Linked DNA regions of Homo sapiens: region 2 is linked to region 1. Evidence: fine-mapped expression QTL. A gene starts in region 1. The other region holds a variant in brackets. All regions are shown on one strand. Distances are between the middles of the regions. Region 1 holds the start of RPH3A (rabphilin 3A). Region 2 overlaps RPH3A (rabphilin 3A).

The links. PIP is the estimated chance that this variant, and not a neighbour inherited with it, causes the effect.
Region 2: its variant is fine-mapped to the expression of RPH3A in whole blood (TOPMed, PIP above 0.99).

The regions. Positions count from the first base shown.
Region 1 is chr12:112,788,419-112,793,796 of GRCh38, reverse strand. RPH3A (rabphilin 3A) reads right to left here and starts at 2,049. Exons shown (of 22, transcript NM_001143854.2): 1 at 1,785-2,049; 2 at 1,534-1,654. RefSeq lists an enhancer at 1,416-1,957.
Region 2 is chr12:112,885,280-112,890,657 of GRCh38, reverse strand. RPH3A (rabphilin 3A) reads right to left here. Exons shown (of 22, transcript NM_001143854.2): 17 at 2,735-2,861; 18 at 578-634. Among named protein-coding and RNA genes, the nearest start is that of OAS1, 19 kb to the left of the region's middle. The variant A/G (reference allele first, on the strand shown) is at 3,003.

The DNA.
Region 1 (5,378 bases):
TATTCCAGGACCCTAGCCATTCTGATCGATTAGTACCAAATTTCAATACTTTAAATATCACCCATAGCCAGATATGTGGTTCTTTTTTTGAACAAAATTTCCACACATTCATTATTCACACTCAAGTCTTCCCAGTGAGGAATCTAAGGCAACTTCCTCCTCAAGGTCACCCAGCAAGAGAAGCTAGGAAGAGAAGTTAGGGATTTTGAGAACCAAATCTTTGACACTAACCACCAGACAACCCTCCTCTTCTGCCTCATATGTCCTGCCTGAGCAGGCACATGCTGTGGGATTTCAGCATCTCTTCTTAGCTATGGGGCTAGAGAAAAAAAGAATGAGTGAACCCTGCTTATATTTCAGGCTTGCCAATCTCTGACTGTTGTTTTATTCCTCCCACCTCCAAGAGCAAGAATCTAAAAAGGAAATCCTTGGGGGTGCAGAACACTGAGGTGGCCCCTGAGATAATAGCAAAAATGCTAAAAACAAGGGCATTCATTTCCAGAAAAGTAGATGTAATCAAAGCAGAAAGCAAAGTGAAATCCCCTTTTGATGGGTAGCAGATTAGCATCAAAAGCATTTCAAAATTAAATGTGAGCTTTTGGATTCAATTTCAAGGTACTTCCACTTCCCACTCACTAACAGGTTGGTGCAGCCTTTCCCCATCAGGATCTTGGAAAAAGAAACTAGTGCAGGGGGACGGTCTACCCTGGAACAAAACTGAAGCTGAAGCCTGGAATCTTTCCCCAGAATTTGAACAAGCTTTGTTCCCCTCCTTCCTTCTGAGATGAACTCAAGGATAGAATCTCCCAAGCTAGTGCCAGGACGCTCCCCCATACAATCACTTACAGGTTACGCCACCTGTGAAAATAAAACATCATCTCCTCTGCAGGCAGTGGCTGCTCCCTTCTGGCCAGCCTGACCACTCATCCCAGGCATAGTGTGGCCCTTTCCTGGCTCCCAGGTCTTCCATCTCAGGAAAGCGTGAACAGCCAACCTCGCAAAAATCACCACAATTAAATTACTCAGCTGTTCCTAGAAGAGGGTACAATCTAAGCTCTGTCCTGTGCAAATCTTACCCAGTGTGCCCAGGCAAAAGTTACCCTTCCAGTCTCAGGTGACCCCCTCCCCTCCAGGGATAAGCACTCACTTGCTAAGTCAGAGTACCCAGAGTCCCTCCATGCTAGACTAGCCAGCCCCACGAAGGGTTAACTCTCTCAGAGAACTGCCGGCTACTTTCACCAGCTTCTGCTGCAAAGGAGAGGGCAAATTGGGCAGAAGCCACAATCTTGATCGCATTGCCTACAACATGAGCACATTTTACCCCCTCCCTGGGCACTAAGCCAAAATCTCATTTGGCTTTGGGATGCCGCTTAGGTGATAAAACACTGCAGGATGTAGGCAAATAAGCATAGTCGTTCCTCGATACCCTTCTCCTCCCAACTACCCTTTACCCCACCAGCTCATGAACACACATCACAATTGGGATTCCAACACCCCTAGCCCATCTGCACAACCCGGGAGAATATCACTTACCGCGACGCTGGAGGCTTGCAGGGGGAATGGGTGAGCCAAATTCTTGCCAACTCCTCCCTTCCCTGCCGGGTAGAAAGACGCTAAGTCCCAATGACTTGGTTTAAAAGCTCAGCGGAGGTGCCTGAAAGAAAATTGTTCATTTGACTCTCCTACTCTTCCCAAAATAAAATCAAAGCACCAGTGCACACACGTAGACACACAGACACATCAACTACCCCTAAATCATGCAGGACCAAGACAAAAAGAAATACCACTGCCAGAAGCGGAGAAAACTCGGACCAGCCAGTGAGTCAGTGGACAAGGGACAGTGGCTCCCTCAGACTGTCCTCCACATGGATGAAGGTTTTAGCTCTGTGAGTCTCTCTCTCTCTCTCTCTCTCTCTCTCTCTCTCTCTCCCTTCTCCCTTCCTTTCCAGTCCGCGTAGGCAACTCCGGGCTGCTGGCAGTAGACGAATCAATTGCTTCCCCAGAGCCAGTTTCTGCCGCGGCTGCCACCACTACTGCAAAGCCCTGTGTGAGCAAGGGAAGCGGGGCGGCAGCTTCCCAGTGCAGGGGGAACCAAGCGGGAACCAAGCCTGCCTCCCACCCGTGATTTATGTGTGCGGTGCCTGGAGAAAGAAAGGTGGGAGGCCGGGAGGGGAGGTTGGGCGCACCAGAGATCCCAGCTGGTCGAAACGGCAACCAGGGGATTGGCGGTCAGCACCACGGACAGCGCTAAGATGCCTTGGAGGAGGGGATGGGTGGGAAGCGAACCCCTAGGCAGAGAAGTTAAGTAATTGGATGGTTAAAGCAGAGAAGGGGGGAGTCCGGAGGGGTGGGGGACGGGACTTCTCGACATCACACAGTCTAGTCAGTGACAGCTTACCTACCACACACTTTTTCTAATACTGTCGCTCACTCTCAGAGCAAAGGAACTATAACTTCACAGCCCCTGTCTCCCACACGCCCCCAGTCCTGCATTGCTCCTCTCTGCTCAGACAAGAGCTTGGCACCGGTGTGGGGGGCTCCCTAAGTGGTTTTGCCCCTCAAAGTTTCGCCCAGATGACCTGTCCTCACCCCCATTGCTGCAGATTTTTGACCTGTACCTGGAGTTTCTCAGAATTCAGAGCAGAAAAGCTGAGGCTTAAGAAATGGAAATTTCTAAGGGGCAGGGTGGCTTAGTTGAATAAGCACTTGATGGTTTTCTGGAAGTCAGATCCAGCCCCCTTACAACTCTGGAAAAGTCATTTAATGTTTCCAAGTCCCATCTGTGAAAATGATAACATAATGACCTTATTTTTCCTAAAGATAGGAAGCAAGAGGTTAAAATGCAACAATAAGAATACCCAAGCTGTGAACTGCCATGATTTCATGGTCCATAACCTGTCCTAAAACACAAATGTTTGGACAGAGTGATAAAGGAATTGACAGCCCAGCTAGGATGGCATGTGCCAACCTCACCCTTCAGCAGGTGGTTTGAGTAGAATGAAGGGAAATTTTAGGTCTAAATCAGACCATTGAGCCTTGGCCAAAGAGCCTTCCCCGAAAGATCCAGACTGGCTTTCTGAAGTGAATTCACTATATGGACAATGAAATAAAAGTATCAAAAGGGGAAATATATAAAGATGAATGGATTCCCATGGCTCCCAGTGCTCCATATCTCAAGAGTCCTATTCCTCCTAACTTTGGGAAAGGGCTCAAATTGGAAAAAGGCCAGGAAATCTCAAACAGACCAAGATCTGCTTAGAACTTCTCTGCAAAGTGAAGGAGAACTCTCTCTATTGGAGACTCATATCTAAAGCTTCCCATCCAGATGGCCCAGGGTTAACTACTACATTTGTCACTTACTTCTCCCCATGAGACCCAGGAGTTAAAATGAGAACATTTAGAGCTCATTTAAAAAACAATTTTTTAAAGACAGTGTCTCTGCCAGGCGCGGTGGCTCATGCCTGTAATCCCAGCACTTTGGGAGGCCGAGGCAGGTGGATTACCTAAGGTCAGGAGTTCGAGATCAGCCTGGCCAACATGGTGAAACCCCATCTCTACTAAAAATACAAAAAAATAGCTGGGCATGGTGGTGTGCACCTGTAATCCCAGCTACTCGGGAGGTGGAGGCAGGAGAATCACATGAACCTGGAAGGCAGAGGCTGCAGTGAGCCGAGGTTGCACCATTACACTCCAACCTGGGCAACGAGAGTGAAACTCCATCTCAAAAAAAAAAAGAAAAAGACAGTGTCTCACTCTGTCACCCAAGCTGGAGCGCAGTGGTGCAATCATAGCTCACTGAAACCTTGAACTCCTGGGCTTAAGTGATCCTCCCACCCCAGCCTGTCCAGTAGCTAGGACTCAAGGTGCACACGAATATACCCTGCTAATTTTTTTTTTTTTTTTTTTTTTGCAGAGATGGGTCTCACTATATTGCCCCAGCTGGTCTTGAACTCCTCGCCTCAAATGAACCACCTGCCTCAGTGGTGGTGGTGGTGGTGGTGGTAGTAATTGTCATCATGATGGTAATCATAGTGATGATTATAGTGATGGTGTTGATTGACAATGATTATGCTGATGATGTTGATGGTGATGATTATGGTGGTGGTGGTGGTGGTGGCAATGATGGCTGCTATTGAAAACCTACTATGTGCCAGCTCTTCTGCTAGGAACTTTACATGTATCATCTTCTGAAGTCCTCACCATGACCCTTTCAGGACACTAGTATTATTCCCATCTTGCAAATGAGAAAACTTAGACTCAAGAAATAAAATTCCTTGCTCAAGGCTTCACAGTAAGTTACAGACACAGCATTCAAACTCAGTGTCGTATGATTCCAAAGAACATGCTCCAGGATGTCTCTCAGAGTTCATTTCAAATGCATTCTACAAGTTTGAGGGGAAAATTTTCATCGAATATTTTCTGGGATGATCCTGTGACATAAATTCAGTGTCCTCAATTTACAGATGGAGAAACTCGGGACCAGAGACGAGAATTGACTTGTCCATAATCAAAGAGCTAGGAAGTAGCAGAGTTGAGTATAGAATGCAAGCCTTTCAGATGCCAGGACCTGTGGTCTATTGCCTAGGGCAGTCCCAGGCACATAGGAAACCCTCAATAAACAATATCGTTTGTTTTATTTGAGACAGAGTCTTGCTCTGTCACACAGGCTGGAGTGCAGTGGTGAGATCTCGCCTAACCGCAACCTCCACCTCCTGGATTCAAGACGTTCTCATGCCTCAACCATGCAAATAGCTGGGACTACAGGTATGCGCCCCACGCCTGGCTAATTTTTGTATTTTTAGTAGAGACGGGGTTTCGCCATGTTGGTCAGGCTGGTCTCGAACTCCTGACCTCAAGCGACCTGCCCACGTCGACCTCCCAAAGTGCTGGGATTACAGGTGTGAGCCACCACACCTGGCTGCCTCAATAAACATTTGAAGAGTGATTCAAGAAGCCCAGGGAGAAATGAAAGTCATTTAGGATGCTGGTGGTGGAATCAGAACCCAAGTAGTTCCCAGGCCTCTTGGCTTCCAATCCCAAAGAATTTCTCACAGCTTCCCCAGCCATTAGGCATGTATTCTGGGAGGGCCTCTCATGAATTCAGCTCTCCCTTAGGGAATGACAATAGCTACCACCTGCTGCATACCTAGACACTTGCCATGTGTCACGCATTGTACTAAGCACTTTACAGTGATTATCCCCACACTTCACAGCTACCTGAAGTGGGTGCTATTACTGCCCCATTTGCAGACAAGAAGCAGACAGATGATGTGAAGCCCCCAAACTCACACAACCAGGGAGCAGCAGAGGCAGGGATGCAAATCTCAGGTCTGTCTGACTCCAAAGCCTGTGTTTTCATGACCCTGTCAGTTTTTCCT
Region 2 (5,378 bases), 97 kb before region 1:
ACATGGGGACCAATGGCTTCCCTTTGACTTAGACATAAACAGACTCTGACTGTGAGCACAGACTAAACTTGCTCCGGGTCACTGATTGGCTTTGGCTCTAACCCAGGACTGAGCCTTGACCCTGGCCCCAGACAGATTCTTGCCTCTGATCTCAGACTCCCTTAACACAACCAGTATTCTTAAAGGGCAGTCCTTGGGGTCATATGAGGGACCCAGGCAGACAGCATGAAGGCTTAGTTCAGTTTCTGCCATGCACACAGCTCAAAGAATGCATCTACTCCAAGAAAGGAGTGTGCCATTGCCCTAGTCAGTAGAATTGTCAACAAAGCTTCTGACAACAAGGCCAAAAACCTGGTGGGCATCCTGGGTATGAGAGAAAGGGGCTTCCCCCTCCTCAGAGGCTTAGGTGTGGAGAGGACATCACTTGTGGGCAAAGGGTTGTTCTCAAGGCAAATCAACAGGGGGGTGGTTGGAAGAGAATGGATGAGGAAGGGGCCAGGGAGGGAGAGAAGAGGAAGATGCTAGCCTAGCCCAGTACAGACCCTGACTGTGGCTTCAATTCCTGCTCAGTGCTCACCTCTTCCTCATAAAGGGCCATGCCTCGGGCTGACCCGGTGGTCCCAGCACGTTTCATCTTAAAAGAAGAAAACAAATAAAAGATAACATTGTCTATGGAGCTCATCTTCCTGCGCAAGAAGGACCAGAAACCCCTCATACTTCCATTACCATCCAGAGCCATGAAAGTGGGTTCTTAAGCTACTGTGGCTCTCCTGCATTCTCCCTTTTAGCTAAAATTTATAAAACTTAGCCATATGGCAAGCTATGTGAATGTGTAACAACCTATGATATAGGTTCTGTTACAATTCCAATTTTACAAATGAGGATGCTGAGGGTCCGAGTAGTTAAGCCCCTTACCCAAGGTCACACAGCCAATAAGTGTCAGAGCATTCCACACACAAACAGACAAGATTTCATTTTCTCTGGTTGAAGTGGCTCAGGGGTCTTGGGGTCTGACCCACCAGGTGCTTTTGCCTTCATGGCCCCTGGGGCCCTTTTGCTGAACTCTAGGCTCTGGGAAACAGAGTTAGAAAACCATTGGTTAAATCCAACCTCCCCACTTTGGAGAGGAGGAAACCTGAGGTCCAGAGGGGAGGGGCCCTCAGTGGGACATAATGGGGGAAGTTCGTGGTGCAAGGGTTAAGGTTTAATGGCAAAGAGCAAAAGAAGATGATCAGTAGTGTTCTGCGGCTGCTGCAGCCCTCTGGGTGTCCTGCACCTCCATGTCTCTGGGGCTGGCTGCATTCACCATAGCAAGATGGGAAGACCCAAAGGCTGATGACACAGGCAAGGGCCTGGCCATTGTCCTGGCCAACTGGACTCACGGAGTTGGAGAAGGAAGAGAAGCCTGAAGACCCAGCTGTCACCAGGCAAAAGCCCAGAAGAAGGGCCTCATTCCTAGGGATGTCTTTAAGGATTTATTCTGAGCCTGGAATTCAGTGGAAATCCTTCCTTGAAATTTTCCTTGTTTGGTCTTGTTCCTTTGCCTGAACTATAAAACTATGGCATGGCATGCAGACATTCCATCCTCAGGCTGGCCATCTGGTGGGAAGATGCTCCTGCACCCCATAGCTTCCCTGTGGAGAGCAGGCAGGCTGCCCAGAGAGACCAGGGGTGCTGGTGTTGTAGGAGAGCTGGACTCTGGCCAGTGCCCAGAGACCTTGGAGACTTGCTACCCTTTCTGGGCCCAAGTTGGCCCATACGTAAGGCAAGGCAGCCTGAATTATCTCTAAAAATATAGATTGTTGAGTCCTACCCTACCCCACTAAAACAGAATCTCCAGGGGAGACCCCCACAAATCTTAGCTTGTAAAGCTCTGGTTTTAGAATCCCCCGGTTAATTCTGAGGTGCAACCCCATTGCAGAACCTCACTTTGATCCTTGCTATTTTCTCAAAGAGCAAGAATCACATCTGACAACAACAATGACAGTTCTAATACTTCATATGTATTATCACATTCAATCCTTAAAAGATCCTATGAGGTTAGTACTACAGTATCCCATTTTACAGATGAGACATCTGAGGCCCAGAGAAATTAAATAATTTGCCTCAGGTTATACCCTAAGTGGCAGAGCCAGGATTCACACCCGAGAGTCTGGCTGCAGAGCCCATACTCTTAAACTCTAGGCTATGCTGTCTGCTGTTTATCTACATGGTGCTTTCTGACTTCATGACTGACAGGTGGGTAAGGCAGCAATATTTCCTACACTAACAACTGTTAATTTATGAGTGCTTACTATGCATTAAGTTCTATTTTGATTATGTTATTTTTTAAAACACAACCCTCCCAAGAGGCAGGTACTGTTATAACACCCACATTACAGACAAGAACACCGAGGCTCGGAGTGGTTCAGCCCCTTGGCCAAGGCCATGGAGCAGCAAGTGGCAGAGCTGGCTCTGAACCCAGGAAGCCCATGCTGCCCCTGCCATGCTGTCCATCCAGTTTGGCCAAGAAGAACTCATGTTCGAAGTGATGCTGACACAGGGTTTGTGAAAGGCAGAGAGAGAATGCAGCCTGAGGTTGTGAGCTGGAATCTTGACTCTCCTCTGCAGACCTGCTGCAGTGCCTCTGCTACCCAATACCCCGTGGATCTATTTCCCCCAATTCAGACCCAGAGGAAGGCAGCTCCCCCAATCTCCCCTCCTCCCATCAGATCCTCAGGGTAAAGTCACTCACAGGAATCACTCGCTCCAGGCAGATGTTGAAATTCTTCCTCTGGTTGGGCTTCAGTTTCTTGAGGGAGAATCTGGTCTCACCAATAAATTCATTGTGGCCAAATTTGTCCTCATCACAGACGGAGATCCTGCCACCAACACAAGGGGGTAGAGAGAGAAACAGGAACAAATATTAAGACACCACTGTGTGCCAAGAGTTGCAGCTGATACTGGTAAGGAATGTGTAATGTATGTGGAAATAATATGATTTCCTGTTTATTTATCACTGG[A/G]CCAAGTACCTTTAACTTCTTCTTTATTGCAGTATAACTGACATGCAGTAAAGCACATAAATTTAGTTTATAGCTTGATGAACCCTTGCATTTGTATATACCCATGTAATTCCCACCCAGGTCAAGATATAAAACATTCCAGAGACTGAAAGATCCTCAGGATCCTTTCTAGTCACTGCCTGTCTCAAAGATAGCCACTCTTTTGCCTCTGGCCACATGAAGTCATTTGTCTGGTTTTTGACCTTCATATAAATGGAATCATATAATATAGACTCTTTTATGTTGGCTTCTCTTGCTCAAGATTATGTCTGTGAGATGCATCCATGCACAGTATAACTTATCCTTTTTATTGCTGCATAGTATTCCACTGTGTAAATGTACCATAATAATTCTGCTGTTGATACAGGTTGTTTCTAGTTTTGAGTTATTATGAATAACGCTGCTATGGAATATTTATGTTCATGTCTTTCGGATATACATGTACATATTTCTATTGAGTATTTTCCTAGGAGTAGGGTTGCTGGCCATGGACTAGGCATAAGTTTAGCTTCAGTAGAAACTTCAAAACAGTTTTCCAAGGCAGTTCCACCAATTATGTCCCTACCAGCAGTTTATAAAGGTTCTGGTCACTCTTTATTCTCTTTGACTTCAATTATGTCAGTCTCTAATTTTAGCCTTTCTGGATGGGTCATAGTATGTCACTAGTTTTAATTTACATTTCCCTGATGATTAAAACAGTTGAGCCCCTTCTCATATACTTTATGGCCATTTGAGCATCCTCTTTTGCAAAGTCAGGCTAGGAACTTTTCTCATTTAATTTTTCCTATTTCAAAACAACTGCATTTACCATTTAGAGAAGATACTGGGGCCCAGAAAGATTAAATAATTTTTCCCTAATAAGAGGTAGAACCAGGGTTTGAATCCAGGTCTCCCTGAATCCTATAGTAATATATTGCCTTTTGTTATCTACCTTACACAGCATTGAGTAACAGTGGCACAAAAAAGGCAGGTCATAAGAAATGTCCCTTAGGACAAGAGTCTCCAACCCTCAGGCCATGGACCAGTACCAGTCTGTGGCCTGTTAGGAACCTGGCTGCACAGGAGGAGGTGAGCAGCAGGTGAGCAAGCATTACCACTTCAGCTCCGCCTCCTGTCAGATCAGTGGCAGCATTAGATTCTTACAGAAGCATAAACCCTATTGTGAACTGCACATGTGAGGGATCTAGTTTGCACGCTCCTTATGAAAATCTAATGCCTGATGATCCAAGGTGGAACAGTTTCATCCTGTAACCATCCTTCTCCCTACCCCAGTTCATGGAAAAACTGTCTTCCACAAAACTGTTCCCTGGTGCCAGAAAGATTGGGAACTGCTGCCATAGGAGACCAAAAGGACCAGTCACGGCATGATAATTCATCCTGACAAACACTAAGAGAGGAAAGGGCTTATTGTCCTGCAAGGCATGGGAGGCATTCTTGGGGGACAGGAAGGGACTGTAAAAGTACCGCACTCCTTGGCCACCAACATTAGTTGAACAAATGTTCAAAGTCCTGGAGGGCCCAAACACCCTCATAGCTGAGTCCTGCACTGTCTAACACTGGAGAAAAAACTTGTCTCTACTGAGCTGGTTGGGGTGTGAACAATATCATCCTTCTTCAGGGCAACGCATCTCCAAAGACATAAGAGAATAATCACTGTTTTTGACCCTGTAGCACCACTTATAGGAATTTACCTCAAATATATCATAAGGCAAGTACAAAAATATTTAACTACAATGGGTCCAAAAAATAGTTAGAAGGAATAAATGAGATCTAATATTTGATAGCACAACAGGGTGACTATAGTCCATAATAATTTAATTGTACATTTAAAAATAGTGAAAAGAGTATAATTTGATTGTTTATAACACAGGGATAAATGCTTGAGGTGATTAAAAAAGACATTTATTTTAACCCATTTAAAAAACTCATGATGCGATTATTACACACTGTATACCTGTATCAAATTATCCTATATACCTCATGAATATTAATATATACACCTACTATGTACCCTCAAAAAATTAGAAATATATTTAACTACAAAGATGTTTGTCACAATATTGTTTATAACTATGAAAAAAGCAGAAATAACAAATACTGTACAATGGAGGAACTGCTTAAGAAAATTATGAAATAACCACAAAATGTAATAGTGTACATTAGAGAAAGTGTTGTACTTAGTCATCAGGGAAATTTGGAACCACAACGCAACACCAGTGCACACCTACCAGAATGGCCAAAATGAAAAAGTGTTGATGAGGCTGTGAAGCAACTGGAACTCCCATGCATGGCTGATAGGAGTGCACACTGGCACAGCCACTATGGAAAACTGGCAGT